Linked DNA regions of Homo sapiens. The protein of the gene in region 2 purifies or fractionates together with the protein of the main gene of each other region. This does not show direct contact. Each region holds a gene or a part of one and is shown on either strand. Other genes may lie near its edges.

What was found.
Region 1: the proteins of SUSD4 (region 2) and ITGAV purify together in Homo sapiens (affinity purification with mass spectrometry; 3 studies listed by BioGRID and IntAct, with this or other methods). This does not show direct contact.
Region 3: the proteins of SUSD4 (region 2) and LRP5 purify together in Homo sapiens (affinity purification with mass spectrometry; 3 studies listed by BioGRID and IntAct, with this or other methods). This does not show direct contact.
Region 4: the proteins of SUSD4 (region 2) and ATP12A purify together in Homo sapiens (affinity purification with mass spectrometry; 3 studies listed by BioGRID and IntAct, with this or other methods). This does not show direct contact.

What each region holds. Positions count from the first base shown.
Region 1 is NC_000002.12:186,634,833-186,642,287, forward strand, and holds part of ITGAV (integrin alpha-V isoform 1 preproprotein), read left to right. Parts: intron 1-1,249; coding exon 1,250-1,375; intron 1,376-2,232; coding exon 2,233-2,277; intron 2,278-3,444; coding exon 3,445-3,488; intron 3,489-3,576; coding exon 3,577-3,633; intron 3,634-6,082; coding exon 6,083-6,135; intron 6,136-6,553; coding exon 6,554-6,756; intron 6,757-7,455.
Region 2 is NC_000001.11:223,221,109-223,228,563, forward strand, and holds part of SUSD4 (sushi domain-containing protein 4 isoform a precursor), read right to left. Parts: intron 6,631-7,455; coding exon 6,486-6,630; intron 2,524-6,485; coding exon 2,141-2,523; intron 1,113-2,140; coding exon 1,084-1,112; 3' UTR 1-1,083. UniProt on the Homo sapiens protein: Acts as a complement inhibitor by disrupting the formation of the classical C3 convertase.
Region 3 is NC_000011.10:68,420,193-68,427,647, forward strand, and holds part of LRP5 (low-density lipoprotein receptor-related protein 5 isoform 1 precursor), read left to right. Parts: intron 1-3,296; coding exon 3,297-3,505; intron 3,506-4,909; coding exon 4,910-5,100; intron 5,101-5,785; coding exon 5,786-5,995; intron 5,996-7,455. UniProt on the Homo sapiens protein: Acts as a coreceptor with members of the frizzled family of seven-transmembrane spanning receptors to transduce signal by Wnt proteins.
Region 4 is NC_000013.11:24,697,019-24,704,473, reverse strand, and holds part of ATP12A (potassium-transporting ATPase alpha chain 2), read right to left. Parts: intron 5,817-7,455; coding exon 5,624-5,816; intron 3,728-5,623; coding exon 3,552-3,727; intron 2,540-3,551; coding exon 2,403-2,539; intron 1-2,402. UniProt on the Homo sapiens protein: The catalytic subunit of a H(+)/K(+) ATPase and/or Na(+)/K(+) ATPase pump which transports K(+) ions in exchange for Na(+) and/or H(+) ions across the apical membrane of epithelial cells.

The DNA.
Region 1 (7,455 bases), on a different chromosome or scaffold from region 2:
TCTTTATTGCTGATTATGTCATTCAGTGGAGGGGAAGGAAGTATCTGATGAGCATGCCTGGGAACCAAAACTGTCAAGGAAGCTAAATTTTGTGATTCTCAGTTAGGACTACTTGTTAACTCTGTCTTTTTAAGAGATACAGCTGTGAAAATGTATGACCTTTTTTTTTAATGCCATGGGTATTGCATAAATAGGAATAATAATAAATAGGAATGTGTAATAATTAGGACACAGTAATAAATTAGGACAGAGAGGTACTATTAATATTATATTTATTAGAATTTTATTACAAGTTGTCTGTAATATATAGCTAGCAGACTCAGTGAATTGGCAAATAGTATTTTGTTTTAATAAGATTAAAATCAGCAGATGTCACCCTGGATAAGTACGTTAGAATGAATTTTTTCACAGATCTCAGAATTGTCGTTGTTAGAATGGAGAAAAGAATAATGTTTTATTCAGAAGAAATAATGAATTTTCCTCTGTTCTTCAATTCAGGAAATGTTTATTGAATTTCATATGTTCTTGGTACCGCTGAAGCCCAGATGATAAAGTAGTGACCTGGACAGAGAAAGTGCTTCTGTGCTGTAGATCCAGTCTCTGTGACTGAACAGATGGGAACAGGACTGAAAATGTTAGCTGTTACACATTTCTTTCTAAAACAGCAGAAATGATAAGAGATTACTGTGTCCATATTGTGGAGACAACACTTGATAAACCAGCTATCCTTTCTTGGCATGGAGGGCAGGCTGATTTTTGTGTAGTCATCTAGATTTCTTGTCTGCTTAATAACAAGGTTGTGAACAAAGGTGAACTCATCCATTCAGGTTGTTTCCTAAAGATGTTTAAATTACTAGTTAAAAAATATCAATTGAACCAATTATTCTGATTATAAAAGTAACAGTATTGTTTCAGTAAATTTTTCATGTTTTAATGGATTAGTTGGGTGATAGCCTTTGATTTTATTATTCCGTGTATTTAACATTGCTTTCTAGTGATTTAAGACAAGTCCTGTTTTCTTAAATTTTTATTAGCAGAGACTACTTTTAAGTACTGGCTTAAACAGAAATAATTTTAAGTTAAGAATATCCATTTTCAAATTGAGTATGATCAAGGAGAGTTATGTACGGCTAATAATTAGAAGTACTAATATCTAATATTGTTTTCCTTCATGCAGGTACCATACATTATCTGTATCATAAAGTTTCCATTTGAAGGTTATTTATTTTATATATACACCCTTTTTTAGGTCAGCTTATTTCGGATCAAGTGGCAGAAATCGTATCTAAATACGACCCCAATGTTTACAGCATCAAGTATAATAACCAATTAGCAACTCGGACTGCACAAGCTATTTTTGATGACAGCTATTTGGGTAGGTAAAACCAAAATTTACTCATTTTTGGAACTGTGGTACATATATCTTATATCTGAGTATGGTCTTTTAAGTAGAAAAATATTTTATGTGAAATAGATTAGGATTTTTTGAAACATACAGAATATACAATTTCAAATTGTTAATGAGTACTTTGGTTATGTTACGTTTCAGTAATTGAAATTGAAGACAGTGATTATTTGTGCAGTGATAATAATAATAGCTAGCCTTTAAGATATGCTTACTGTGTTCTGGGCATTGTTCAAGGTGACTTGGTTTGTATTCACTCATTTAATCCTCACAAGTCAAGCATACTGTATTATTCTCATTTTGTAGGTGAAAACACTGAGGCACTGAGACGCAAAATAACTTGCCCAAAGTCACTCGCTTGTAACTTGCTGTTCAGAGATTCAAATGGAGACAGTCTAACTCCTGAAGTTTTCTTCATGATGTTAAATAAAAGTTTTGGTCTTTAGGACTTATTAACATGTGTTCTCTCTTTCAATTTCTTTATGATATATTAAAACAAGTCATATATGACAGAAATAGTACTTGCTGATTGAGAGAATTTATTTGTTCTTTATGATGAGTTGTAAATTTGGTGTTTTTAACAGACTCCTTTGTAAAGTTAATAAGACAATTGTAGTTTTGTAATAAAAATAGACTATTTGAGTATTTAACTCAGTTTCATTTAAAATTCATATGTCATATATATATGAATCTGTTATGACTAGGGGACAAAATATTGCATAAGTAAAGGAGTTTCTTGAAAATATTTTCAAGGAATGCTTACTCAGCAAGCCTGCTGAAGATAACGTCCTTGTCCTGATGGTTCTCCCCTTTGGTTTCCTGTTTAGGTTATTCTGTGGCTGTCGGAGATTTCAATGGTGATGGCATAGATGGTATGAAGTACTTGAACTATATCTAATCTTTAAAAAAATTAGATTAAGTATTTGAAACATGTGGCATTGAAAATTTTAAGCAGTTTGAGTGGCTGGGTGCTGTGGCTGCAGCCTGTAATCTCAGCACTTTGGGAGGCTGAGGCGGGTGGATCCCTTGAGCCCTGGAGTTCAAGAACAGTCTGGACAACATGGCAAAACCCTGCCTCTAGAAAAAACACAAAAATTAGCCGGGCGCGGTGATGCACACCAGTGTCTAGCTTCTCAGGAGGCTGAGGTGGGAGGATCTCCAGAGCCCAGGGAGGTTGAGGCTGCTGTGAGTTGTGATTGCGCCACTGCACTCCCGCCCGGGCGACAGAGCCGAGACCCTGTCTCAAAAAAAAAAAAAAAAAAGGAAAAGAAAATAAAATTTTAAGCAATTTTAAACCATTGTTATGGAATATAACAGAAGAAATGAGGAAGATGTTAGCACACTGGTGAGAGTCCAGGCTAGGTCTGTGCTGAACTTCCTCTAGTGGCTGCTGAAATTGAGACAGCTACACTTGGCTTCAGTGCCTTTCCTTTCTGCTTCTTTTTAGCCCCCAACACTGTTAGTGATTTCCTTAGCATTTTCCTCCTTGTCTTCAGCAAATTCATTCCTCTGGGAGGAAGAATTAGTGTCTTCTTTCTTTAGGCATCCTTTGTTACCTTCTGGGCCATCTCTGTACGGTTATTACCCCATCCTCTCATTGTCCATCCATCTTCCTTCAGAGCTCCGTTTAGGAATCACAGTCTTTACCTGATTTTGATCACATTTTTGTGCCACAGCCACTTCTACCCCACTTCAGTTTGCTCTGTATTATTTTTCATTACTGTACTACTAAACTAAATGTAGTTTTTCTTCATTCTTAGGTTACTTTATCTTGTCTATTCTTGTTTAACAATATTACAAATGACTTGAGGGCTTATTTGCATATGTTTGAGAGCCCTCCAGAATTTGTATTTTGTAAATTTTGATTTTATAGTTTAAAAATGCTGGGCTATTTATTACGGAGTACCAATTTTTCTAAATTGATTGTTTGTTTTGAACTGAAGTAGTAAAACTTAAAGCTTGCTGACATAGTCACTTCTGGTCTGCAACTTCCAGTGTTGTCCTAAAAAATGAATAATTTGTTTGTTTGTTTGTTTCAGACTTTGTTTCAGGAGTTCCAAGAGCAGCAAGGACTTTGGGAATGGTAGGACAGTTAAAAGGTATTTTTTAAAAAATCTCTAAGTTATCTTCTATTTTACCAGATTTCACATACTTCTATTTTTCCTTCACAGGTTTATATTTATGATGGGAAGAACATGTCCTCCTTATACAATTTTACTGGCGAGCAGGTATGCTTCCAAAATATGATCGTCCTCTCCCACTATAAAAGCAGTATGTACTCATTGGAGAAAATTTGCGAAATAAAACTGTAAAAATGAACTATAATCTCATCAAATAGATAATTCTTCCAACTCTTACCATTTTGGTCAAACTATTATCATTTCTCTTTTGAGCGTGTGTGTGTGTGTGTGTGTGTGTGTGTGTGTGTGTGTGTAGTATATAAACAAAAATTGGTTTACTCTGTATTTTTCATTTTGTCTTGCCTTTTTCACTCAATATTTTATCATCAGAGTTTCTAATTTCTTAAAACTTTCCTTGGCAGTATCAGAATGGTTTAATGATTCCATAATATTCAATATTCTAGATATAAGATGGGCTTTAAATATTTCATCTTTGTTTTAACCAAAGTAATTTGGATATTTTGGCTTGTTTTTGTTTCCTTTTTTTTTTTTTTTTAGGAAATGCAAAATCACATGCATACAAAACCACAAAGACTTCCTTTTTCTTTACTGAAAAGAAAAAAGAGAAAAGAATTCTTTAAATTCTTTTTTAAGGATGATCAATGCCTTATAATTTTATTAGATGCAACAGAAAGCATGGCACAGATATGTGTATTATAGATATTATAAGCGAACTTCATTTTTACTACATGAAATAAGATATTTCTCAGCTAAAAAAATGCTAGTACTTTTTAAGTATTAGACATTTCTCTGCGAGTACAGGCATTTTATAATATTCTCTGTTGTATGTCTCAAAGAATTATACCATAAGTTGGTAATGATGAATAAACATTTAAACAGTAGGTAGAGAAAAATCTTTCTCAAAGTTTGCAGATCTGGGATTCAAGCCTTTTTGTTCAGTTGAGATTGTTGGGCTTTGGGATAGGATTGACAGGCTGACTGACTAGACTCATGGTCCCCAGAAACCTCCTCCCATTTGTATGGCAGTCAAGATTGATGCACAACCTGGAGGGCCCTGCAGTTGACAGGCAGTTAGGGTTGCTGCAGGGGTGGTCCCTTTGTTCCGTTTTGACTTCTCCAGCTCAAGCAGCTTCTCCTGTCTGGTGACCATGTATGAGTCTGGATCCTACTGCATGCACTCAATGATACTTGCTTTATTCCTCCTTCCACTATTGGGAAGTGGGGGTGGCTAGAGAGGAGTGGGAAGCGTGGCTTTTAGATGAGGACAAACCTGGGTTTTCCATGCTCAATCTGTTATTGCATTGGATAAGGTATTTGCTGCTGAAAATCTGTTTCTTATTTATAAAAATAGGGATGCTGACAACTTCCTCATGGGACAGTTGTGAGAATCAAAAGAAAACATTCGAATCATAGTGCCCGGGACAAAGTGTGTCTCAGTAAATGCCATCCTTTCTTTACACTTCCAAGCCAAACACCATAGGTGACTAAGGCCCATGAATATTATTCTGTTACATAGTCGGCACATCAACCTTGTACCCCAAACACAGTATATTTTATTTCACAAGCTCTGAACTTGTTATTTAATACAGAACACACCTTTCATTTTCCCAATTACACTGTATCAACCCAAAATAGATAATGCAGGAATCTCCCTTATCATTCTCCCTTGATATCTGAGCCAATCAAATTTGAGAAGCATTGCTAACTTTCCTTTTTTGGTTTGTTGACTCATTTTTCACCTTACTTTATATTTAATCTGTCATCTCTTTTAGTTTTGTTTTGCACTTTCAGCTCTCTTTAGAGCTTTCCTTTTTCACATTTATTTACAGCTAAGCTGCTCATCCTATGCAAGCCTGTGGTCTCCTGTGGTAGGGAAGAGGACATTTCTGCTCCCTGTGCATTATAAGCTCATAATAAACCCAAACACATTTGTACTGTGTGTGATTCAAAAGCAAAATCATGTGGCAAGTAATCTATAGAGATATGACACAAAAATGAGCTCCTTTCCATATCTTTCCAAACAGTAATTTTTAAACAGTAGTAGTAGTTACACATAGGGGAGCCAATTATTATCTGTTATTAATAATTATTATCTATTATCCTCATGACATAGGCATCCATATAAAACTTGTTGGGTTCAATCACAACATTTGTCTGTGACTATATATCTTTGTTAGTGTGCTTGTGTCTGGTATGTTTTGGGAAGTGGAGAGAAAGGGAGATAGTAGGGTAGGCCTGAGAAGGAGAATTGATAGTCCTTAGACTTAAATGTCATATATCAACAACACTGGAAGGATATACATGTAATATATTGTGTATATACATGTAATATATTGTGTCCATGATCTAGGAAAACAACAAGCCTCATTACCTGATTGTCATTGTGTTGGTAGAATAAACAAAAGACAAGACATTTAGATTGAAGCACTATATGCAGAGAAAAAAAATAACCCTATTTGGTACATATATTACAAATGTTAATTGTCTAAACTAATTGGATGAAATATAAACATTTCATTTTCATCTTTTTATCCAGATGGCTGCATATTTCGGATTTTCTGTAGCTGCCACTGACATTAATGGAGATGAGTAAGTTTAAAAAAAAATGTTTCCAGAAAGTTATCTTCTCATGTTTACGAATACTTTACTCAAACTAAACATTTTTTTCTTCTGTTTTTGTATTCCTTTTCTGCTAATCTTTCTGTTTAAGGAAACAATTTGAAGCAACCTTAATCATGAATTCTAGAAAACCTCATATGTTTGTTCTGTTTTTTTTCAGTAGCTTTTATAACATGAACAAATAAAGTAATTTTATGAATTATTCATAGTTTCTTAAAAGAATTAAAGGAAGTTTCAAATTTGAAATGAGTGCTCTGGTAATCATTTTGTGTTTCACTGTGGGTGTGAGAGATGCAGAAAGAGGAAAAGTGAGTTGTAGTAAGAAAGAAAATGCCTACTAAGACATGAAATTTGTTCTTGCTTTGGTGAGAAGTTTCTGTTCTTCTAGTTATGCAGATGTGTTTATTGGAGCACCTCTCTTCATGGATCGTGGCTCTGATGGCAAACTCCAAGAGGTGGGGCAGGTCTCAGTGTCTCTACAGAGAGCTTCAGGAGACTTCCAGACGACAAAGCTGAATGGATTTGAGGTCTTTGCACGGTTTGGCAGTGCCATAGCTCCTTTGGGAGATCTGGACCAGGATGGTTTCAATGGTAAGATCAAAGTTTAGCAGCTACAGGTCCCTGATTATCTGTGTCCACCTGGAAAAGTTCTGTAAGTCCATCTGTAGAAGTCTACACGAGCAAATCTCCTTCCTGGAAAGGTGGATTGTGTGTAAGTGAGTAACACACCAAATTTAAAGACAGTTTGCTATTTTTCTTTAAAAATCAGAGCAAAGATTTCAATAATGGACTCTCATGAGTTATTATTCACTTGGCCTCAAATTAGAAGGTCAGAATGATTACTTTCTGAAAGGAACCTTCATTACCCTGGTGCCTACTGCTAGCTGGTATGTGTTTCTGCATCCTGCTTAGCAGCAGTGCCCTCTTCTGTTCATTTGGCTACAAGTGTTAAAAAAAAATGCTTCCAGGCACATTGTCAAGGCAATGCTGACTAATGCATACCTCAAAGGTATGATTTGCCATTAATATTTTTAAAGCCATAACTTTGTTGTAGCTGTCCAAAATGTTCTAAGGGATGTTATATCTCCCTTTATGGTGGCATATTAAAAGTATAAGCCTATTCGTTTATAATAGTACCATTTTAATAGTTGTCGATATCTTTAAAAAGCAAAGTTAGCTTTTACTTTAGAACTCTTTTCAGAAACCTGAAATATAGGTTACAAATTACCAAGATTTTTTTTTTAATCTGTTAAAAACCTTTCTAGAGATCACAGAATGGATAGTTGAACT
Region 2 (7,455 bases):
CAGGTGAGGTGGCTGAGCTATCTGGGCTGGGAGGCCAGCCTCCTGGAATCTTAGGACAAATAAAAGGGGGAAAAATCCAACCTCACACTTCTTTTGAAGGTCGGATATGTTTACAGAAACAATTTCTGTTTTGGAAAATAAATGTATGGTTCAATTTGGGGCTGGGGGAACAATGACAATTGTCAACTAGAGAGAGGCTCATGATTCTGAGATAAATGTTAAGTGGAGTCTTTTTAAAATGCTGAAACAAAACATTACCTTGGTTACTGTCTCCATCATGAGATGTATTTGAACACATTCTGACCATGTGTAAAAACCACCAGATTTACCCAATGCCATGGATCCATGTGCCACACCATGAATACAAACACTGATGATATGTTACCAGAAGACAGCACAGAGTTCATGAGCTCTACTTTGTGAAGAAATTTCCAGAAAGCAGAGTCTGCCCATCTTTCCTTTCCTTTCTCACTGCAACTGCCACATCCTGCTTTCGTCTTGCTTCGAGTAGAGTTGTCTGGATGAAGGAAGATTCTCCAAATGTCACACAAGGACCTTTCCTTTGGGAGCTGGTCCCTTGCTGAGGGTGCAGGAGGCTCTGCTGTTCTTCCAGCATCTCAACACAAACTTTCTGCAGAGGCTGACCCATCCAAATTTGGAGTCCAGAGACAGTTTGAAGCAGATGTTAGAAGCAAATTTACATGATGTGACATGCTTTCAGAGGGGGCGGGGAGTACTTGCCAGTCAATGGGATGCGTGATGATTCGGTGGGATGTGCGTGGAATTGTCCCATGTTCCACAGCACGATACACATTTAACACCCCTCATCCAAGACCACGCGAGGGCTTCCCTGCTGCCCCGGTTCCCCATGGGTCTTGGTGAATCCTCAAATCTCATTTAAAAGCACTGCCATTGCAGTTTGTCAGCCTCACTGTGGAGCCTGAGATGCATAATGTGAACTGTGGTCCCCATGTAGACAAGTTAGACATTTTGCCCCCAGGCTCTATCCTTCTGTGACCTCACTCCAAGATACAAGGTCCTTTCCCCGAAGGAGCAGGAGAGTCATCTGGATCTTGACCCATATTAGGGATCTTCTTCCATTAGAGGAATCTCTGTAAAAGAAGAGACGGTTATTAGCTTAACATAACCAGAAAACACCATGACGATCTGGAATTATATGCCTCATTAAAATATCTACAGTTTCTCAAATCAGTGAGGAGAAGAAAATGTTAAGTTCCACATACCAGTTAATAACCAAATAAATCAACCTCCTATACAACATCTTTCTGTAACAATTGTTCTTTGCCAGGAAACAATTATGATCTTATTTCCAGTTCATAAAAAATAAAATGTTACATTTTAACCATAGGCCTTAATGGTCACACAAGCCAGAAAGTTGCAAATTCAAGTACAGAAAGGCAGCGTGGTTTGCAGAAAAGGAACACTGTGGTGGCCCAGGAGACCTCTGTTTCCACGTCATTACTGCCATTTACTCTCAATATAAGCCAAATTAGTGCTCTCATTTGCAAAGTGGCACTGGGGCTCCCCTTCTGTAGGAAACAGAGACCTAATCAATCTGACACATTTTCCTTATTTTACCATGAATCTACCCTTCCTTGTGACAGGTACACATGCATCTTTTACTTCACATCTGGTAAAAATAACTTCTATGTACACAGAACTCTGGGGCTAGAACACACTGCTGGGCCCTAGTGCGTGCCTCTGGATCCTTCTTCCTGGCATGTATGTGCCATCCTGTCCCTAAGCCCCACTTCCAGGAGTCCTATCTAATTAAGGAATAAAGAAGAAATACATTCCAGATCATACAGACACCACAAAAATGAAGCACCGGCCACTGCTGCCTTTCTACTCTGGATGGCTCGATGCCTTTTGGTGCCTCTTGAAATTTCCATTAATGGGCTCATTACTTGCAAGATGATGATCATTCCCTACAATAATTGGCCTTGCCCAAGGCCTCTACATGGAGAGAGAGCATGAAGCAATTTAAGCTGAGTGAGAGGTAAACAGATTGATTCGACTCTGTGCTGGGGGGTGGAGCGTGCGTAGCAAGGAGCTGGCTTGAAGATGCTGGTGCGGAGGTGTTTGCAGGTGTGGCTTGGGCCCTGGGGCAAGCACTTACCATCTGCAATGTCGATGCCTGGGCTGGTGGATGCCACCTCCTCTGCCGTGCTGGCAATTATGTCAGGGTTGTCCGAAGCAGGGTGGGTGCTCTCTTGGCACCTGGGAGGTGAATACAGACTTTGGAGCAGCTCAGAAGAGCCTGAGACGCTGTCACAGGTTTCTGACTCCCCTGGGCCTGTGTCCGTGTCCCCTGAGCCGGGGTATGCTGGGGGGCTCTGGTCGTCCACGGGTAAGGGGCAGCCCTGGCCCACAGAGGCCATGTACCCGGGGCCTAAGGCACTCAAGCCGCCACTCACAGCTTCGTCATAGGACGGGAGCATGACGGGCACGCCGTCTACCACCACAAAGTCAGGGTCACTGCTGGAACTCCGGGGAGGCCCCCTGTGTAAAGGAAAGAAGTGCCAACATGTGAGAGCCATGCCACTCTGGGGATGAGGCCACCCATACTCCCTCCTGCACTCGGGGTCCTCAGGACCCACGATGGGCAGCAGAGTCCCGTATGGAGGATAATATGGAAGAACCAGCCTCCTTTCAGGGACTCCTCTGGAAGATGATGCTGCCATCCCGGCTGCCCATGCTCCGGAGAGAGGAGGTTTTCTTTTTGTCACTCTCTCGTGTCCTCCTGCCTCTGGGCCTTACTATCTCCTCATGCTTTTTCCCTTGCTCCTTTGACCTGTGGGCTTTGGCCTTCTGGCCATAAGCTCATGGAGCAAGGGACAACATAACCCTTTCTAACAGAGCAGCCCAGTGCACCTCTGAAGTGTCCTGTAGGATGGGATTGAAAGTGGGATAGCACTGTTAAAAGTACAGAAAATAGGTCAGGTGTGGTGGCTCACACCTGCAATCCCAGCACTTTGGGAGGTTTTGCTTGAGCCCAGGAGTTTGAGACCAGCCTGGGCAACATAGTGAAACCCTGCCTATACAAAAAATAAAAATGTTAGCCACATGTGGTGGCACGTGCCTGTAGCCCTAGCTATTCAAGAGGCTGAGGCAGGAGGATCCCTGGAGCCCAGGAGTTTGAGGCTGCAGTGAGCCATGATCGCACCACTGCACTCCAGCCTGGGTAACAGAGCGAGATGTTGTCTCATAAACAAACAAACAAACAAACAAAAAACAGTAACTGTGGACCCTCAGTGCCCAGAGGGACTAGCTGGCCCTATGCTCATCATGTTTCTTTGTTGTTTTCTGCATTCAGTATAAAAATCATTACATTTTAGTCTAGATTTAAAAAAAGAAAAAGAAAAAGGAAAGAAGGAAAAAAAAGGAAAGCTGTGAGCACTATGTCACTACCCCGTTCAAGCTACGCAGGCTCACCGCCACCTCCTGACCCCCCGCCACTCTTCTAAGCAAGGCCCGGGTTGCTGGTGTGAGGGCTCCAGGAGCGGCGGCAAAGTGAGTCTGCATGTCTGCAGGGCTCCCTCACGTGGGCGCGCACACAGTTCCTGGCCTGCTCCCTTTGCTTCTCAGCCCTCTGCACATTCAACACTGCCTGATTGGAGCCCGGGGCGTCTGACATCACAGCCTGGGCTCCGTGTGACCCCCATACTCTGCTCCTGGCCTCAAGAGGAACCCAGGGTGGCTAATAAGTAGCCAATAGAACTTGGTTTCTTCCTTTTTTTTTTTTTTTTTTTTTTTTTGAGATAGAGTCTCACTCTGTCACTCAGGCTGGAGTACAGTGGCACGATCTTGGCTCACTGAAACCTCCGCCTCCCAGGCTCATGCGATTCTCCTGCCTCAGCCTCCCGAGTAGCTGGGATTACAGGCATGCACCACCACCCCCAGCTAATTTTTGTATTTTTAGGAGAGACAAGGTTTCACCATGTTGGCCAGGCTGGTCTTGAACTCCTGACCTCAGGTGATCCACCTGCCTCAGACTCCTAGAGTGCTGGGATTACAGACGTGAGCCACTGTGCCCGGCCGGAACTTGGTTTCTTATTGTCTCTGCTGGGAACTGGTGCTGAGGGAGGAGGCCAAAGGTAAAATATGAGGAAGAGAAGACCCAGCTGGGTGGGCAGACCCTGAATCTCTGAGTGCTGGCGGCAGGGGCTCTAAACCCAAGAAGATGAAACGTCTGGGGGTGGAGGGGAAGCACAGGCTGTGCGTCTCTCTAAAGCTCAAGTCCACTGACTTTTTGAAACATCTTGCAAAGGCTTGGAGATTATGGTGGTGGACTCCTTGTCCCGCAGCTCTTAAAGACTGCCCAGAGAGGGCGGGAGACCACCAAGACCATGCTCTTCAGGGGGCAGAAGACAAGAGGCAGGAGGAAAGGAGGAGCTTGCTCCGAGCCAGACTGCTCTCCCTCCACAGCCACCAGTAGTTACTGCTTACCAGTAGTTACTGCTTCCTTGACAATGATGCTCCCTTCCTCTCCGGCCACTTCACTGTCTTGTGCTGGCCTCCTCTTCTCACTCAGGACTCCCTGCCTCCTCACCATCCCTGGCACCTCCATGTTGTCTAGGCCAGGGTGAGCAGACGCCTCTCTTCTCCATTTCTCACCCTAACAGTCCACACCCAGGATACAGCTCCCAAGATCTGGCAGCTTCCCCTCCACGTGTCCCCGCCATGCCACTCAGCTCCCATACACCCCTCGTCAACATCCCTGCAGGCTCTACTCTTGTGGAACCTGGAGAAAAAAAGTCCATTCTTGGTTTGCCCTTGAGATTCTTGTCATGCATTTGGATTCATGTCATGTATTTGAAGCCAACCTTCCCAAAACAACTCAAGAATAATATAAGATGAAAGACTCAAGGGCTGAAGAACATCAAATGAAAGGGTTTCAAGAACATTTTAAAAACATCTTAATATTTAGTGGATATCCTGGAAACTTTTCTTCCAAGCATATGTAGAAAAATAGCTCTGTGGGCTCTTTTAAAGTACTTGAACGCACTATCAATCACAGCCTTGTGGGTTGGCTTTCTCTTTGTAATCCTTAGGCCTTCTTGAGATACTGTAATTGCTCAATGATAGAACATGGTCCCTTGATGAATATATAATAATGTGGAAGACAGAGAGTGGATGGCAGGTTGGAGAGGAAGGAAGGTTTCAGCATCTTAGCAAGAGCTTGCTATGGCACCAGGATGGCACTGACACACCTCTGGGCCTGGGGAGGGATGCAGGTGACACCCACATCTAGCACACATTTGTGGCTGGGGAAAGAGGGATGCACCTATCAGGTTGTGACCATAGCGGGTCCCTGCTGCCAGGCAGGGGAGAATTGCTAAGTGAGGGAGGCCGCCCTGTGAGGTGTGAGGTTAAGGGCAAAGGCGGGTAGGTGCTGTCTCCAGCAGCTCTGCCCATTTCCTTCACTCCTCTCACAGCTGGGAGATGTGAGCAACACACTGCATTTTCCTGAAGGGAAGAGAGAAGTGGTTAATTCCAGGAGCCTCCTCCTCCATGAGCAATAGTCCCTTTTTCAGGTACATATGACTCTGGGGACTAGGCTGTCCCTGTGGGCAAAAAACAAATGCCCTTTTCTGAAGCATTAGGTTCTGAAATGAGAAGACTCTGACATGGCCACAGAAGGCAAGGAAAAGACAGCTTGTACCAATGGCCCCTGGCTAGTGTTCTGTGGTGTTTTGCTGTCCTCACCTCTTCTTCTCAATGTTCATAAACTTATCCTTTTGCTGTCTAAACTACTTCTCCCTCCAGGAACAATGATTTGCCAGCAGTAGTGCTGGGTGGCTCTTCTTTGTTCCTAAGGGTGCTGGTGCAGTCCTCTTTGGTGGTGATGACTTGAGGCTGAAGATACCAACCCGAGCTGATTGGTGCAGCTCAGAAGGATGTAGAAGCGCCTTCCACATGTCCCACTCCAGGGGTTCAGATAAGACTTCATGGTAGACTCTCACTAGCCCTTTCCTGATTGCTCCTGGAATCAGAAAAGTCTTTTCTCCTTCCTGAGGCTTCTCAATGCATAACACTTTTGTTCACACACCTCTGACCTGTGTCCCAGTCAGCTGTGTGCGCATCTTACCCTCCCTATAGACTGAGCTGTGTGGTGCTTCACTCCAGGGCCACATGCAGGGGGACCACAGTGGGAATGGTGCCTCTGGGTGGAGCAGTCCACAGCCTGTAGCCCTAACTCTGTGATCCCATCGCTAGCCCCCCATGATGCCCACCTGCAAATGGTCTACTGCAGGAAGGAGGGAGAGAGGTAGGAAAGAAAGAAAGAGGAAAATGAGGTCTGTCTCCAGCTTTGTGCTCAAAACATCCCAGAACATTGTTTTTGCTCTCCCCTGTTTCCCTTTAGAGCTTCAACTTTTCACTCATCACTTTCTCCCTCTGCTGCTAAGGGTAGCTGCATTGAGTCAGACCTTGAGCCACAGCTGCCAAGACATGACACTGACCTGGGGGGAAAGTGGGCCTTGAACTTGGTCTGGAACATCCTGGCCAGGATGACGAGCAGCAGCACCAGCAGCACACTGGTTGCCGTGAACGCCACAATCTTCCACGTGGTCAGGAGGGTCTCATGGGTGCTGGGCCACGTTTGCTCTGCATGAGGGAGAACAAAGCTGTACGTGAGGCTCCCAGACCATGAGAGGTGCCGAGGTTCCCCGTGGGCTCATTTGCTGGATTCATCTGGCACAAGAGATGCGTGCAAGGTGCCTCTGACCCCCAGGGCTCGGCAGAGATACCATGTGCCCCTGTAGCTCATGTAAATTGCATCAGGATCCACCCAACACTAAAAACCTGTCTCCAGCATGGGCTCTGCCAGGTTGCAGACCTGCATGCTCACATTCCAGTCCCAGGCGCAGGCCTGGCACAGGCTTAAATAATGCATCTGCCTCTTGAGAACAGAGGTGGGCATCTCTCTTGCCTGGAGAAGTTGCTCCGAAATGGACCAAGGGGTGGGGGAGTGGGAAGCTGGGCCCTTTGTGAATGTTCTGGGATATGCTGTGGGGTTGGGTAAAGCAAGAAACAGAGGGTAAAGGGGACCCCTGTTCCACAGCTCTCATGCCCTACCACCTCTAGCCATCAACTGCCTGCCAGGTCAGGGGCAGCAAGAGCAGACCTTTCCAGAAGAGACTTATCCTTTGGGCACAGGCCACCCTGTCTCTTAAATGTCTCTCTGCCTTGTCATGACCACCCTCTTAGACACTCTCTTTGCACTTCTCCCCCGGCTGGCTCACAGGATCATGTGTGCGCCTCCAGAGACCTGGCATTAACAAGTGCTTCCTTGTGTCCAGGGGAAAGGCATGCAGTCATCAGCACTGCTCAGGGCAGCATCCCCAGCCTGGAAAGGGCTGGAGAGAGTGGGAAGGAGACAGTGGGTGTGTGCTGGTGCCCCAGTCTCTATCCTGTGGTCACTACCCAGGT
Region 3 (7,455 bases), on a different chromosome or scaffold from region 2:
TCCGAAACTGTCCGCATTGAACACACTCCTCATCTCCCTCTGACAGCCACCATTCTACTTTGTATCTCTCTCTGCCTTCTCTAGGTACCTCATGTAAGTGGAATTATACCAATATTTGCCCTTGTGTGACTGGCTTCTTTCATGTGACATGGTGTCCTCAAGGTTCATCTGTGTTATAGCCTGTGTCAGAATTTCCTTCCTTAAAGCCTGAATAATAACCCGTTGTAAAGGCTGGGCGCGGTGGCTCACACCCTCTAATCCCAGCATTTTGGGAGTCCGAGGTGGGCAGATCACTTGAGGTCAGGAGTTTGAGACCAGCCTGGCCAACATAGTGAAACCCTGGCTCTACTAAAAGTACAAAATTAGCTGGGTGTGGTGGCGCGCACCTGTAATCCCAGTTACTCAGGAGGCTGAGGCAGGAGAATCGCTTGTACCCGGGAGGCAGAGGTTGCAGTGAACCAAGATTGTGCCTCTGCAGTCCAGCCTGGGTAACAGAGTGAGACTTCCTGTCTCAAAAAAAAAAAAAATCATCGGATGGATGGACGGACCACTTCTTGTTATTTATCCATCCACGGGTGCTAGGTTTCTTCCACCTTTGGTTGTCGTGAATAAGGCCACTATGAACATTTCCTTCCGTGGTGAAGGTTTTGTACTAGTGAGGAAAAGGCGTGTTTGTGGTGTTGCATAGGATTCTGGTAAGAAAGTTTGCACTAACCATAAGTATTTGTACTACATTAAAATGAAAGCTCAGGGGCCGGGCGCGGTGGCTCACGCCTGTAATCCCAGCACTTTGGGAGGCCAGGGCGGGCGGATCATGAGGTCAGGAGATCAAGACCATCCTGGCCAACATGGTGAAACCCCGTCTCTACTAAAAATACCAAAAAACTAGCCAGGTGTGGTGGCGGGCACCTGTAGTCCCAGCTACTTGGGAGGCTGAGGCAGGAGAATGGCGTGAACCCGGGAGGCGGAGCTTGCGGTGAGCCGAGATCGCTTCACTGCACTCGAGCCTGGGCAACAGAGCAAGACTCCGTCTCACGCAAAACTCTGTCTCACGCAAGACTCCGTCTCAAAAAAAAAAAGAGTTCAGGGTTTATGAAACTGGCCAGCCGCGTAAAGTTTGCTGTGTTGTTTTTGTGCCCGGGAGGAGTGTGGCCAGGGTGTCACGTCACACAGTACACGTTTCTCAGATGGTGGTTCTCCAGACTGCTGTCCCAAAGTCTGTTTTTGCATCTGGTTCCCACAGACCCACCCTCCACGGTGAGCCTGATTTTGGCCAGGGTAGCTGGAATCTTGCTTGTCTTTCAGCCCGGCAGCTGTACCAGTCCAGGGTCCACAGCTAGTGGCTTTTAGGAAGGAATTTGTTCAGTTGGCTTTGACACATGGCCCCCTAGGGTCCACAGCTCTGTAGTGATGTGGATGTTGTTATCTACAAAGACACATGATCCTTCGTGTCCAGATGAAAGTGATGATGTCTTTGCAGCTGCCCAGCAAGGCTGTGTGTGTGTGTGTGTGTGTGTGTGTGTGTGTGTGTGGTGTGTGTGTGGTGTGTGTGTGTGTATGGGGGAGGGAGGCACCCTTTCCATCTGGGGGTGTGTGTGTGTGGGGTGTGTGTGTGTGTGTGCGCGTGTGTGTGGTGTGTGGTGTGTGTGTGTGTATGGGGGAGGCACCCTTTCCATCTGGGTCCAAGAGACTGGGCCTGGGGAAGACGCTTCTTTTTATCTACTTAGAGACTTTGTTTTATTTGTATTTTTTTGAGACAGGGTCTCACTCTGTCACCCAGGCTGGGGTATGGTGATATGAGCATAGCTCACTGCAGCCTCGGCCTCCCAGGCTGAAGCGATCCTCCCACCTCAGCCTTCTGAATAGCTGGGACTGTAGGCGTGCGTCACCATACTGAGCTATTGTTTTTTTTGTTTGGTTGGTTTAATTTTTTTTGATACAGATGGAGTCTTGCTATGTTGCCCAGACTAGTCTCAAACTCCTGAACTCAAGTGATTCTCCCACCTCAGTTTCCCGACATTCTGGGATCACAGGTGTGAGCCACTGCTGTCTCCCTGTTTTATTAACTGCTGAAAGACCTAGATAAAGAAAGTCTGAAAAGACTTACTATCAGAGCACCATCCTAAGATGATTCCCTCTGACTCAATGGAGAGGGAGGGGAGCTTTTCCTTCAGGCCTGGGTGGCAGGAGCCCAGGTGCTCCAGGCCCCATTTGCCCCAGGCCAAATCACTCGGGAACTTGGATGCAGCTGTCTTTCAGGGTAACCCAAAGGAACCAGATCCCCGCAGGCAGTAGGCTTCTGGGCTGTCCTCTCCTCCTACGTCAGCTCAGTAAGAGCCCTTCGAAGGGATGCTGTGTCGGAGGCCCCAAAAGCCCAGGCTCATCCCTGAGATGCACAGGGTGGGCTGGGCTTAGGCAGCGCTCGAGCATCTCCTGGACGGTGACCCCAGAGAGTGTGGAGACGGAGAGTCCTTGAGAGTCACTGAGAGACGTGGCTGCCCTGCCTTCCCAAGAGGGGCTCTGAGTCATTCCCCACACTCACCTGCCCCTACCCACCCTCACCTGGCCCCCAGCCTCACCTACCCCCACATCTGTACCGATCCCTTTACCCGCACCTTCCCTACCCACCCTCACCTCCCCTGTACCTTCACCTCCCCCACTCACCCGCCCCTGCACCCTCACCTGTCCCCCACCTTCACCTAACCCCCACCCTCACCTGCCCTCCCCTCACCTGGCCTCCTTCCGTTGGGGAAGGGGTTGTAAGGGGCGGCCCCCAAACTGTCTGTCCTGGTGCCCTGCAGAGAAAACAGTACGTGAGGGCCGCAGTCCAAAAGCTTGAGTCCTGGAAGGTGGAGGAGACAGGGATGTGTTGGGAAGGGCCCCATGGTCTTGGATCCCTTCTCGACTGTCAATGGGGCCTTCATGGGAGCGCCAGTCTAGTGATGCACAGCTGGGTGCCCGGCGGGTGGCTGAGGAGGCCTAAAGTCCGAGGCGGCAAGAGCTCTTCCAGAGGCTGTTGTCCTAATCGCTCTGGCATACTCAGGCGGGCACGTAGTTAGGAGCTGATTGGAGAGGAGAGACCCCCACACCAATACTGGGATTTGACTTTCAGGCTAAACTTGAGAAGTGTGGCCTCTGCTGTCCTGCCAGAGCTCTCCAGCCAGTGCCCAGGGCTCTCCAGCCAGTGCCCGGGGGTCTCCACCAGTGCCCGGGGGTCTCCGCCAGTGCCAGGGGTCTCCGCCAGTGCCCAGGGGTCTCCGCCAGTGCTCAGGAGTCTTGGTTTCTTTGTCTTACAGCCCTTTGTTTTGACCTCTCTGAGCCAAGGCCAAAACCCAGACAGGCAGCCCCACGACCTCAGCATCGACATCTACAGCCGGACACTGTTCTGGACGTGCGAGGCCACCAATACCATCAACGTCCACAGGCTGAGCGGGGAAGCCATGGGGGTGGTGCTGCGTGGGGACCGCGACAAGCCCAGGGCCATCGTCGTCAACGCGGAGCGAGGGTAGGAGGCCAACGGGTGGGTGGGGGTGCTGCCCGTCCAGGCGTGCCCGCCGTGTCTTCTGCCGAATGCCAGCCTCTCACAGGCTGGGGAGACTTTCCACCCTGGGGATCCAATGGGTGGCTTTCCAGGGTCCCAAAAGCAAACACAGGCTCTTTCACAGCCCCTCCAGGAAAGCAGAAAGCCCCAAGGGCTGGAAGGGAAGGGGGAGCTCTGCTGAGAGGTTACAAGGCAGCGCTGGCCGACGGGAGTTGCAGTTGATAGGTTTTGTATCATCCTTGTTAAACTTGAACCCTGTGCAGAAATCCCTTCCACGGCATGGGGGCTGCCTGTTGACTCGCTCCTGTTCCACCACAGGGAGCTCCTGGGCTTCTTCCTCCCAGAGGCCCCCGACGCTCCCACCTGTTGGTCGTCAGAGCTTCTGGTTGGTGGGAAGGCACCCAGGACCTTGAGGTCTCCAGAGAGAAAAGCCAGGGAAAGAGGGAGACCGAAACCCATGTGACATGAAACTCAGGCTCCAAACTGAGCACGGGAACGTTTGGGGACAGGAGCGCGATGGCCTTCCTCAGATAGCTGGGGGGCTGGCATGAAGACGGGAGCTACAGCCAGCACAGGTCCTGGGCCGGGAGCCCAGAGATTGAGCCCTGACTCTGTCACTTACTGGCCACGTGACCTTGGGCGGGTGGCATAGCCTCTTGGAGACTCAGTTTCCTCATTGGTAGGAGTGACGGCCACAGTGGTGCGGCCTCTGCAGCACACGGGGGGCTCGGTGGGCGGAAGCCCCGGGTCTATAAGGCGGCTGTGCAGGAGCCAGCCGAGCTGGTCTCCCAACAGCCAGGGCTCCGGGGTCCTTAGCAGCTGTGGGGGGCCTGCACCTGTTTCCCATGGCTGCTGTCAGAAATTACCAGAAGCCAGGTGGCTGAGAGTAATGGACACTTGTTCTCTCACAGTTCCTGAGGGCTGAAGCCCGAGATCGAGGTGTGGGCAGGGCCCTGCGCCCTCTGAAGGCTCTGAGGGAACCTTTGGGCTTCTGGTGGCTCCAGGCACCCCTTGACTTGTGGTCCTGTCACTCCAGTCTCTCTGTCTGGCTGCACATGGCGTGGCCTCTTCTGTACCATTGAAGGACACTTCAGTTGGATTTAGGGCCTACCCTCACCCATTGTGGTCGTATCTTGATCCTTCATGACATTTGTAAAGACCCTGCTTCCAAATAAGCTCACATTCTGAGGTTCTGGGGTGAGCGGGAATTTGGAGAGCATTGTTCAACTAGTATAGAATGTGACCTGTCAGCCTCGGGCAGCCCTGAGAGGCAGGGGCTTTCCACAGCCCAGCTGGGTGCCCTGGGCTCCGTGCTGTCCGAGGAGACGCCATCCCCACACCCGTCCTTCACCCGCCACCCTCCCGCAGGTACCTGTACTTCACCAACATGCAGGACCGGGCAGCCAAGATCGAACGCGCAGCCCTGGACGGCACCGAGCGCGAGGTCCTCTTCACCACCGGCCTCATCCGCCCTGTGGCCCTGGTGGTGGACAACACACTGGGCAAGCTGTTCTGGGTGGACGCGGACCTGAAGCGCATTGAGAGCTGTGACCTGTCAGGTACGCGCCCCGGGGCCTGCCCTAACCGCAGACACCCGGCCTTCATTGTCAGTAATGGCAGCAGCTGCCACATTGTCCGAGACCTGCCGTGAGCCCAGTGCCGCGCCAGGGGCTTTGTGTGTAGCGTGTTTTGTCCTCACACTGACAGCTGTAGGCTGGGGTTCTGAGTGAGCCCCACAGGGCAGAGGCAGAAAATGAGTCTCAGAGAGGGTGAGCGAGCTGCTTGGGGCCCCACAGCAGGAGATGGAGCAGGACTGCAGCCTAGCCTCTGCCCCCAGCACCTGCGCAAGAAGCTGCTCTGCTCTGGACTGTGTTAGGCTGCGAGGGCTGGAGAGAAATGAGAGTTGGTGCTTAGAGAGGGGGCGCAGGTCCCCATGGCTTTTCCTCTTATGATGAGGTAGATGGGTGAAGGGAGGGGCCATGCTTGCAGGGGCCAGTGACCGAGGCCCGCCGTTGGAACTGATGGCCTTCATCCCGAGCCCAGCCCAGGTGGGAGCAGGGCTTTCCGAGGGCTTGTCTTGGGTCGGCCTGCTTCCAGGGACTCTGCTGCAGCTCCCACCCCTGTCCAAAGCATGGAATCCCCCAGGCTCCCTGGCAGTCCTGTCAACCTCTGTCCTCCCAAGCTGAGTGTGGGGCAAGTTCTGGAGGTCAGCACTGCTCAGGGGGGCCCACGGGCTGCTTGCAGGGGCCAACCGCCTGACCCTGGAGGACGCCAACATCGTGCAGCCTCTGGGCCTGACCATCCTTGGCAAGCATCTCTACTGGATCGACCGCCAGCAGCAGATGATCGAGCGTGTGGAGAAGACCACCGGGGACAAGCGGACTCGCATCCAGGGCCGTGTCGCCCACCTCACTGGCATCCATGCAGTGGAGGAAGTCAGCCTGGAGGAGTTCTGTACGTGGGGGCTGGCAGTGGGGTGGGCAGGGTGGCCTCTAAACCCGACCCCTGGAGGAGGCTGGAGGCCAGTGCAAGATCCTGTGTGGCCTCAGCCAGGCGGTGGTCTCTGCCAGATGCCAACTGTTGCCCGCTGGGGTTCAGCGACATGTCCGAATGTCCCGAGGCCTCTGAGGTTGTTTTCTTTTGCCGCAGAACAAATCACCACGAACAGCGTTTTAAGACAACACCAACTCTTTTTTTTTTTTTTTTTTTGAGTCAGGATCTTGCTCTGTTGCCCAGGCTGGGGTGCCCTGGTGCAAACACAGTTCACTGCAGCCTCGACCTCTGGGCTTAATTAAGTGAACACCTTGCCTCAGCCTCCCAGGTAGCTGGGACTACAGGTGGGCACCACCACACCTGGCTAATTTTTTTTTGTAGAGACGGGGTTTCCCCATGTTGCCCAGGCTGGTCTGCAACTCCTGGGCACAAGCTATCTGCCTGCTGTGGCCTCCCAAAGTGCTAGGATTATAGGTGTGAGCCACTGGCCTGACAACACCCACGGATTGTCTCTCAGTTCTGTAAGGCAAAGTCCAGGCACAGCGTGGCTCACCTGGGTTCTCTGCTCAGGGTCTCACGGGGCCAGAATCAAGGTGTCAGGAACGCTGGGCCCTCAGCGGAGGCTCTGTGGAGAAATTAGCTTCCTTGCTCACTCAGCAGGTAGCAGTTGTGGGATCGAGGTTCTGTTTTCTCTCTGGTTATTGGTCGGGGACCACTCTCAGCTCCTAGAGGCCACCACAGGTCCTTGCCCCGTGGCCCTCTCTGCCTCAGCAGTGGGGGCTCCCTGCGTCAGTCCCTCCCACACCTTGAGTCTCTCTGATTTGCTTCTAAAGGGCCCTGTGATTCGGCTCAGCCACCTTTAGATTAGGTTAGCCTCCCCTTTGATAGACTCCAAGTCGGCTGATTAATAACCTTAATCACATCTGCAGAATCCCTTCTGCCACATAAGGTCATGACGCCGTGCTGGGGACTGGGGTGGGAAATTACGGGGTCATTTAGGATTCTGCCTGCCACTGCCTTGCTGTGTCCCAGGGCTTGGGGGAGGGGCCTCCACAGCTGGGACCACAGTCCTTCCTCCCCTCCATGGTAACCATCTGAGGATTACTTGAGACCAGCCTGGGCAACATGGTGAGAACCCATCCCTACAAAAAATACAAACAAAAAGGGACCAGGCTGGGCTTGGTGGCTCATGCCTATAATCCCAGCACTTTGGGAGACCAAGGTGGGCTGATCACTTGAGGTTGGGAGTTCGAGACCAGCCTGCCCAACATAGTGAAATCCCGTCTCTACTAAAAATACAAAAATTAGCTGGGTGTGGTGGCAGGCGCCTGTATTCCCAGCTACTGGGGAGGCTGAGGTGGGAGAATTACTTGAACCTGGGAGGCGGAAGTTGCAGTGAGCCAAAATTACGCCACTGCACT
Region 4 (7,455 bases), on a different chromosome or scaffold from region 2:
CAGCACATGGCCATCACCAGGCTAAAACTAGACAAAGACCACAAAAGATCCTTGAATGGAAGGCCAAACAAATCTTCCTAAGTAGGGAAGGAAGGGCAAATATAAAAAAGAAGCAATTGAGAAGATGCAGGAATAAGGTATCTTATATACAACTTTCATTAAAAATTGCTAAAATGGGCCAGGCGCAGTGGCTTACGCCTGTAATCTCTACACTCTGGGAAGCCAAGGCGAGCAGAACCCTTGCAGTCAGGAGTTAAAGACCAGCCTGGCCAACATCGTGAAACCCCGTCTCTACTAAAAGTACAAAAACTAGCCGGGTGTGGTGGCACATGCCTGTAACCCCAGCTACTCAGGAGGCTGAGGCAGGAGAATTGCTTGAACCCAGGAGGTGGAGGCTGCAATGAGATTTCACCACTGCACTCCACACTCCAGCCTAGGCAACAGAGAAAGACTCCATCTCAAAAAAAAAAAAATCTGCTAAAATTTTAAATTAAAGTCCCAGCTACTTGGGAGGCTGAGAGGGGAGGATCCCTTGAACCCAGGAGGTGGAGGCTGCAATGAGATTTCACCACTGCACTCCACACTCCAGCCTAGGCAACAGAGAAAGACTCCATCTCAAAAAAAAAAAAATCTGCTAAAATGAAGCTGGGTGCAGTGACACAAGCCTGTAGTCCCAGCTACTTGGGAGGCTGAGAGGGGAGGATCCCTTGAACCCAGGAGGTCGAGGCTGCAGTGAGCTATGATCACACCATTGCACTCCAGCCTGGGTGATCTGACAGGACACCTTGTATCTAAAAAAAGAAGACTCGGCTGGTCTGAAGGTAGTAGTGAATTAGCTCAACTGATTGTTCACAGTCAGTTACAGATCAAACTTCTACTCTTTCCCCTCTTCTCACTACTGCACTTGACTACTCTTAAAAAAATTTCTTTTAGTCCAGGTGTGGTGGCTCACGCCTGTAAGCCCAGCACTTTGGGAGGCTAAGGTGGGTGGATCACTTGAGGTCAGGAGTTTGAGACCAGCCTGGCCAACATGGCAAAGCCCCGTCTCTACTAAAAATACAAAATTAGCCAGGCATGGTGGCGGGCGCCTGTAATCCCAGCTATTCAGGAGGCTGAGGCAGGAGAATCGCTTGAACCCAGGAGGTGGAGATTGCAGTGAGCTGAGATCACACCACTGCATTACAGCGTGGGTGACAGAGAGAGACTCTGTCTAAATAAACAAACAAACAAACAAACAAAATTTGTTTAAAATTCTAAAGTGAAAAAAAGTATAATCCGATTATCTTACAAAACCAAACAAATAAACAAGCCCCAAAGTTGTTTTCATAGAGGGATGTTATGTATACTAAAGGGCACTGCAAGACTCTTAGACTTCAGGTACTGCTGCTGTGCCCAGAGGCGGGAACCCTGGTTGGTTGTCTAACGTGGTAATTTGTTATGACCTGACAGCTGTGTGTCCCTAAAAGACCTAAGTGCTTGGGGAAACTGAAGAGGTGCATTGGTCTTTCCCTCATCTCCCGCATGCGTGAAAACATAACCCAGCTAATGAACATTACTTCTCAACCTGAGAATTCGGAGTCTTTGACTCATGGAGACCAGGCACAGTCCAGGCCACTCTCCTGCATGCCCAGCTCCCTAGCCTTGTGTGGCTCCCTCATTACACTGGCCACATCATTGTTAGCTTTGTTTGTGTCTCCTTGGCTCGATGGAAAGATTCCCCAACGGTGTGGATAGTATTGTTCAGTTTGCTACTGTAGTTCCAGGTCTTGCCTGGTATATAGTTGGCACGCAGTAAATACTTGTTGAAAGAACAAATACATGAGTGAATGTACAGTTGGATGAACATGATTAAAAGAATAAGGATAAACATGATTAAAAGAATTAGGAGAAACAAGGAAAAAAACTTTCCTTAGGAAGCTTCCATTCTATCTATTACCAAATAAAAAAGAAGGGTGTGTTTACATAGCTACACGTTATGAAACCGGGTGGATAAATACCCAAGATGCTTACCAAGGAGGGTGCATGAAACAACCCACAGGGTTCTTACGATTCCAAATTATGCAACTGCATCTATGGCAAGTAATTTCACATAAACCCTTTGTTTCAGTTTTTCTTATTCTAAATTGGGCACATAGGTTTTGTGCCCAGGGCACACTGGATTTTGAAATTTCAAACAAGGAACACATAAAGGGTCATTTCATGGTATCAATACTGTGCCTGGCACATATTAGCTGCTCAGTGAAATTAGAGTGAATACATGGATATGCAAATAATAGCTCAAACAAGCCTAGCATAACTCTGAGAGCAAAAAGCTGATTTGTTCCAAGTAGTGCAGCTCTTTAGAGCCAGTGGGGCCCCATGGGTATAAACTGGAATTTTTACTATGCTGCTCCTGTGCTTACCGTTTGTTAACTTGCTCCACAGCAATGTTGAGGCGATGTGCAATGTCTTCCACTGTTTCACTGTTGGCTGAAATGATCCCCACACTCTTGGCAATAGCTTTGGCTGTGATGGGATGATCACCAGTAACCATAATAACCTAGAGCAAAGACAACGAGAAGGCCCACGGGTAATGAAGAACTCGGTTGGCCAAAGTGGGGATGGTTCAGTAATACCTACTCTGTAGTGCCCTGGGAGAACGTGGTTGGTGATTACAGTGGCAGCTCTGGATCTACGAGACAACTGTCTTTGGAGGAAACACTAATCCCATTGGGTCTACCCTTGCTCCTAAGCTTCATACGCTTCCTCCTCTGACATGAAAGGAAGCCCTTCCCCTTTGATGCCACTTTATTTGTGAAAGGGCTGGTGAGTGTCTACTTGGGGGTAGCCCCATGTTACTTCAACAGTCTTAATATTAACCTAGTAATGATGAACATGGATTATGGGGGCTGAGCCTCAAGACTGAGTAATAAAGCCTTTTTTCTTTCTTTTTTTCTTTTCTTTTCTTTCTTTCTTTTTTTTTTTTTTTTTTTGAGACAGAGTTTCACTCTTGTTGCCCAAGCTGGAGTGCAATGGTGTGATCTCGGCTCACTGCAACCTCTGCCTCCTGGATTCAAGAGATTCTCCTGCCTCAGCCTCCCGAGTAGCTGGGATTACAGGTGTGTGCCACCACATCTGGCTAATTTTTTTGTATTTTTAGTAGAAACGGGGTTTCACCATGTTGGCCATGGCTGGTCTGGAACTCCTGACCTCAGATGATCCGCCTGCCTCAGCTTCCCAAAGTGCTGGGATTTCAGGCATGAGCCACTGCGCCCAGCCAATAAAGCCTTTTAGTATCTACCATGGACTAGGGCGAGATATGGTCACTTCAAGGCACTAGGAGATTCTTCTCATTGCATTTACTGTTTATGTGGTTCATTCCACATAGACACAATCATTTTCTTTTTGTGGGACAGTTTCAGTAACCTTAGCACAGTGAAACTAGAAATAAAATAGGAATTATGATATTTACTTGAAGACACCTAAATACTGACCATCTGCTATGAAAACCATTATTAGAAAGGAACACGACATAAAGAAAGAACTTCTTGAGTCAGGAAAATAACTCCCACCTTGATCCCTGCACTCCGGCATTTGGTGACTGCATCTGGCACGGTGGACCGAGGGGGATCGATCATTGACAAGAGTCCCACAAAACAGAGGTTGGAGGTCGGAAAGTTCATAGCGTCTATGTCAAATGAGTAGGTTTCTGGAAACTCGTCTGCTGGCAGGTAGAGATGACAGAAACCTGTAATACAGATGAATTAGTGAGTCAGTGAAACTAGAATAGGAAACGAAAAAAAATAAGAGGAGAACATGCTCATACACCTTGGTCCTCTGCTGTTTTACCAATACATTAGAATAAGCCAGAATTGTTTAATTTCTTCAACTCCATAATGCATTTTTTTAGGAAAGACATATTTCATCCAAATATAATTCACTGTGAGCTCATTAGGCTCTGTGTTCTAGAAATATATCTTGCTATATTGCCAAGTTCTAGGGCAATACACAGTCTCGACTTCTGAAGTTTAGCGGGGCACAGAGTTAAAGGGATCAAGCATAGGGTACATCTCAGGGCAGAGACACATTTCAGCTGCCTGGAGGATTAGGAGAGACTTCCCCAAGGAGGTCACATGTGAGGTGAAGCTTGAGAGGGGCAAAGATGATTTCTAGGGAAAAAAGGGAGGGTGGAGGTGGGAAGGCCATTTTCAGCAGAGAAAACAGCATGTGAAGGAACAAGGGGGTTCAGCGGAGGGGCACAAAGTTCAGTGCTAGATCAAGATAAGCCCAAGAGAAAGGCCAGCAGGAATGGGGCCGAGCCATCCTTTTCTCAGAAGGCATCAGCCTCTCATAGGCTGAGGTGGAAGGGACTCTTGTGTCTGGTGGGACCTCCAAGATTGTGTGATCAGCTTTCACATCCAATTTATTTTCAGCCTGGCCCACTGCTTTGCAAATGTCAATGGAGCAGGCTTTGAGAAATCAAACGCAAGTGGGCATCGATCCCGTGTAGAATACCCGGTACTGTGGGTTATTGGATGCCTAAAGCATCACCATCTCATTTATATGCTTTATCTGATTTGCCAACTCCAATAGCCTTTAGAAACACACATTCCACAGACTGCATCTGTATTGGTGAGGACTTCCATGGTGTTTAATGAGCCGGATCGTCAACCATACACTTCTGTTTCCTTGAATTTGTCATTCTGTGGTCCTGATGGGGCACCATTCCGCCAGCCCTGGTGCTGACAACAGGACACACTGTCCCCTTTGACAACACCGCAGGCACCCCCATTGGGTCCTCCTCCTGTTGCATTTCTAAGGTTCCTTCCTTCCTGACACTTTGTCTGCATCACTGGCATCACTCTCTTCCTAGTCGTTAAATGGGAAGCTTAATCATTTTTAAACATTATCCTTCTCTGATAGGTTCTAAATCTTACCAAACTCTACCTCTATGAAGTCTCTTGCCCTGATCTCTCCTTCCCATTCCCATCACCCTGAAAAAATTCCCATCCCTTTTGCCTGAGCAAGGGCAGCTGCTTCCTATGGAGATGTGCATCTCTCCTCTCCCTGCTGCCGCCAAAGACATTTAAAGAAGTTAAAGAAATTTAACTCCTTCCATAAAGTCTTCCCCAGCCCTGCGACTGCCCAGCTCACTCTAGTGGCACAGCCCTCAGTGCTCTCTACTGACTGCAGGATGAAACCTGGCTCCTCACCCAGATGTTCAAGACCTCCATCTCATGACCTCCAGTCCAGCCCTTGAACCCTGTTTCTGTGACAGTGCCATCTCACCTGCTGGCAGCACCCAATGTGCCCCACGCCGTTCTGCCTCTGTGATTGGCCTGTGCTGTTCCCTGGGCCCTGGATACTTTCCCCTATCTCCCCTCAAATGCAGTCACTTAAGGCCCAGTTTGAAATTTAACTCCTTCCATAAAGTCTTCCCTGAGCTTGCCTCTCTGGAGGCCATCCCACCCTGCTTGGTGCTGTCACACAGCATCCTCTCCTTGTTCCCATCCTGCTTATCATGTTCTCCTTTACATGCTTCACGTGGATGCCATGGCCACTGGGCTAGGTCACAGGTCCTCAAGGCGCCTGCCTCATCTCTGTGCCCACCAGGTGATGGGCAGGGCCCTGCCGCCGCACTCACCCAGCACACGCTCGCCCAACCCGCCCAGCTCCATGTAGGCTGTGTGGAAGGTCTTGGCAGTGCTCTTGTCCAGTGGGTGCTCCTCGCCGTTGATCATGATGGTGCTGCATTTCTCTAGGATGCGCTCAGGGGCCCCCTTCATCACCATGAGGAAGCGCTTGCCGTGGGGGTCATCCATCTCGTGGATGGAGAGCTGGGAAGGAATGAACTGAGCGTGTTACTTACAGAAAGGTGAAACGCATTCCTTCTTCTCTACTGGTCCATTAAATGTAAAGGAGGAAGAGGCACAATGGCATCCTCAGCATGTTCCGCCCTTTTTCTTTCTGTGGCCAAGTAAGACGAAGAGCTCTAGACTTGGCCCCAGCCCAGAGTGGGGCACCCACTCTGGATAAGTGGAGCTCATCTTTCAAGCAAAACTGGCTGCTTTAGGCAGGCTAGTTGTGGCCGTCAGCGTGTGAAATCTTGTGCCTTGAACAAGATCTCCCAGGGTGCCCGTGAGAGTTAGGGGGCTGCGAGCCTCTGCATCTCACCTCCTCTACCTCCCTGTGGGGAGCAGCCGTCTTTCAGACCCAAACTATTCTGAGCTCAGGAGGGGAGGAGGCGACAGGAATTTCTGCACCTCCTCACCTCATTGTCCACCCAGTTTTCCTGCTTGGATGTCATAGAAAATGGCGGGGTGTGAGGAAGTGGACACTTCCACGTATAATGTTTCAGGAAGACAGCCGAGTCACAGGAGTCTCCATTTTAATAGGAATGCTCTTGACCCAGCAATTCTACTTCTAGATCCATCCTAATAAGATATGCAAAAAAAATCGATATACAAGAATAAAAGGACTAACTCTTATCTAGCCCTTCTGATAAGCCAGGTACTCTTCTAAGCACTCAAGAGGAATCTCAGGAAGCTGGAGTGTTTGGGAGAAAATAAGTTGCAAAGAAAAGTGCTACAATTTTGGGTAAAACAGTTCTTTACAAATCAGTATTTCTTAGACTTCTGGGTATCAAAGATGAGTACAAAAAGAAGTATAGGGCAAATAGGGTTACCAGCTGCTGCTGCTGCTTTTTTTAATGATCAAGTAAAGACATTGAGAAAACCAACCAACCAACAAAAACCAAACCAAACAGAAAACCTCCCAGCTCTATCACTTTCTAAAATATAGGCCTTTTCTTTTTCTTTCTCTCTTTCTCTCTTAAATTTTTTTTTTTTTTTTTTTGAGACGGGGTCCCACTCTGTGCCCCAGGCTGGAGTGCAGTGGCACGATCACAGCTCACTGCAGCCTCGACCTCCCAGGCTCAAGCAATCCTCCCACCTCAGCCTCCCAAGTAGCTGGGACTACAGGTATGTGCCACCATGCCCAGCTAATTTCGTTTTTTGTTTTTTTTGTAGAGATAAGGTCTTGGTATATTGCCCAGGCTGGTCTTGAACTCCTGGGCTCAAGCAATCTGCCTTCTTCGATCTCCCAAAGTGCTGTGATTACAGGTGTGAGCCACTGTACCTGGCCAAGATAAGGCTTTTTACATTTAAAACATAGGGATAATATGAAACACTTTTATGGTATGTACCACGTGCCAGGCACTGTTCTAAGTGCTGTCCACATCGACTTATTTATTCTCAAAACAACTTTAAGGCCATGGGTACTATTATTATTCCCTTTTACAAAGGAGGAAACTGAGGCACAGAGGTTCAATGCTTCACTCAGGGTCACTGAGCAATAGGTGGCTATCTGGTGGCTGAGCTGGGATTTGAGCCCAGGCTAGCAGGCTCCAGAGTCCCTGCCCTTAATCATGGTGGCTACAAAGGATAATCTTTTAAATTAAATACATTCATCTTTATA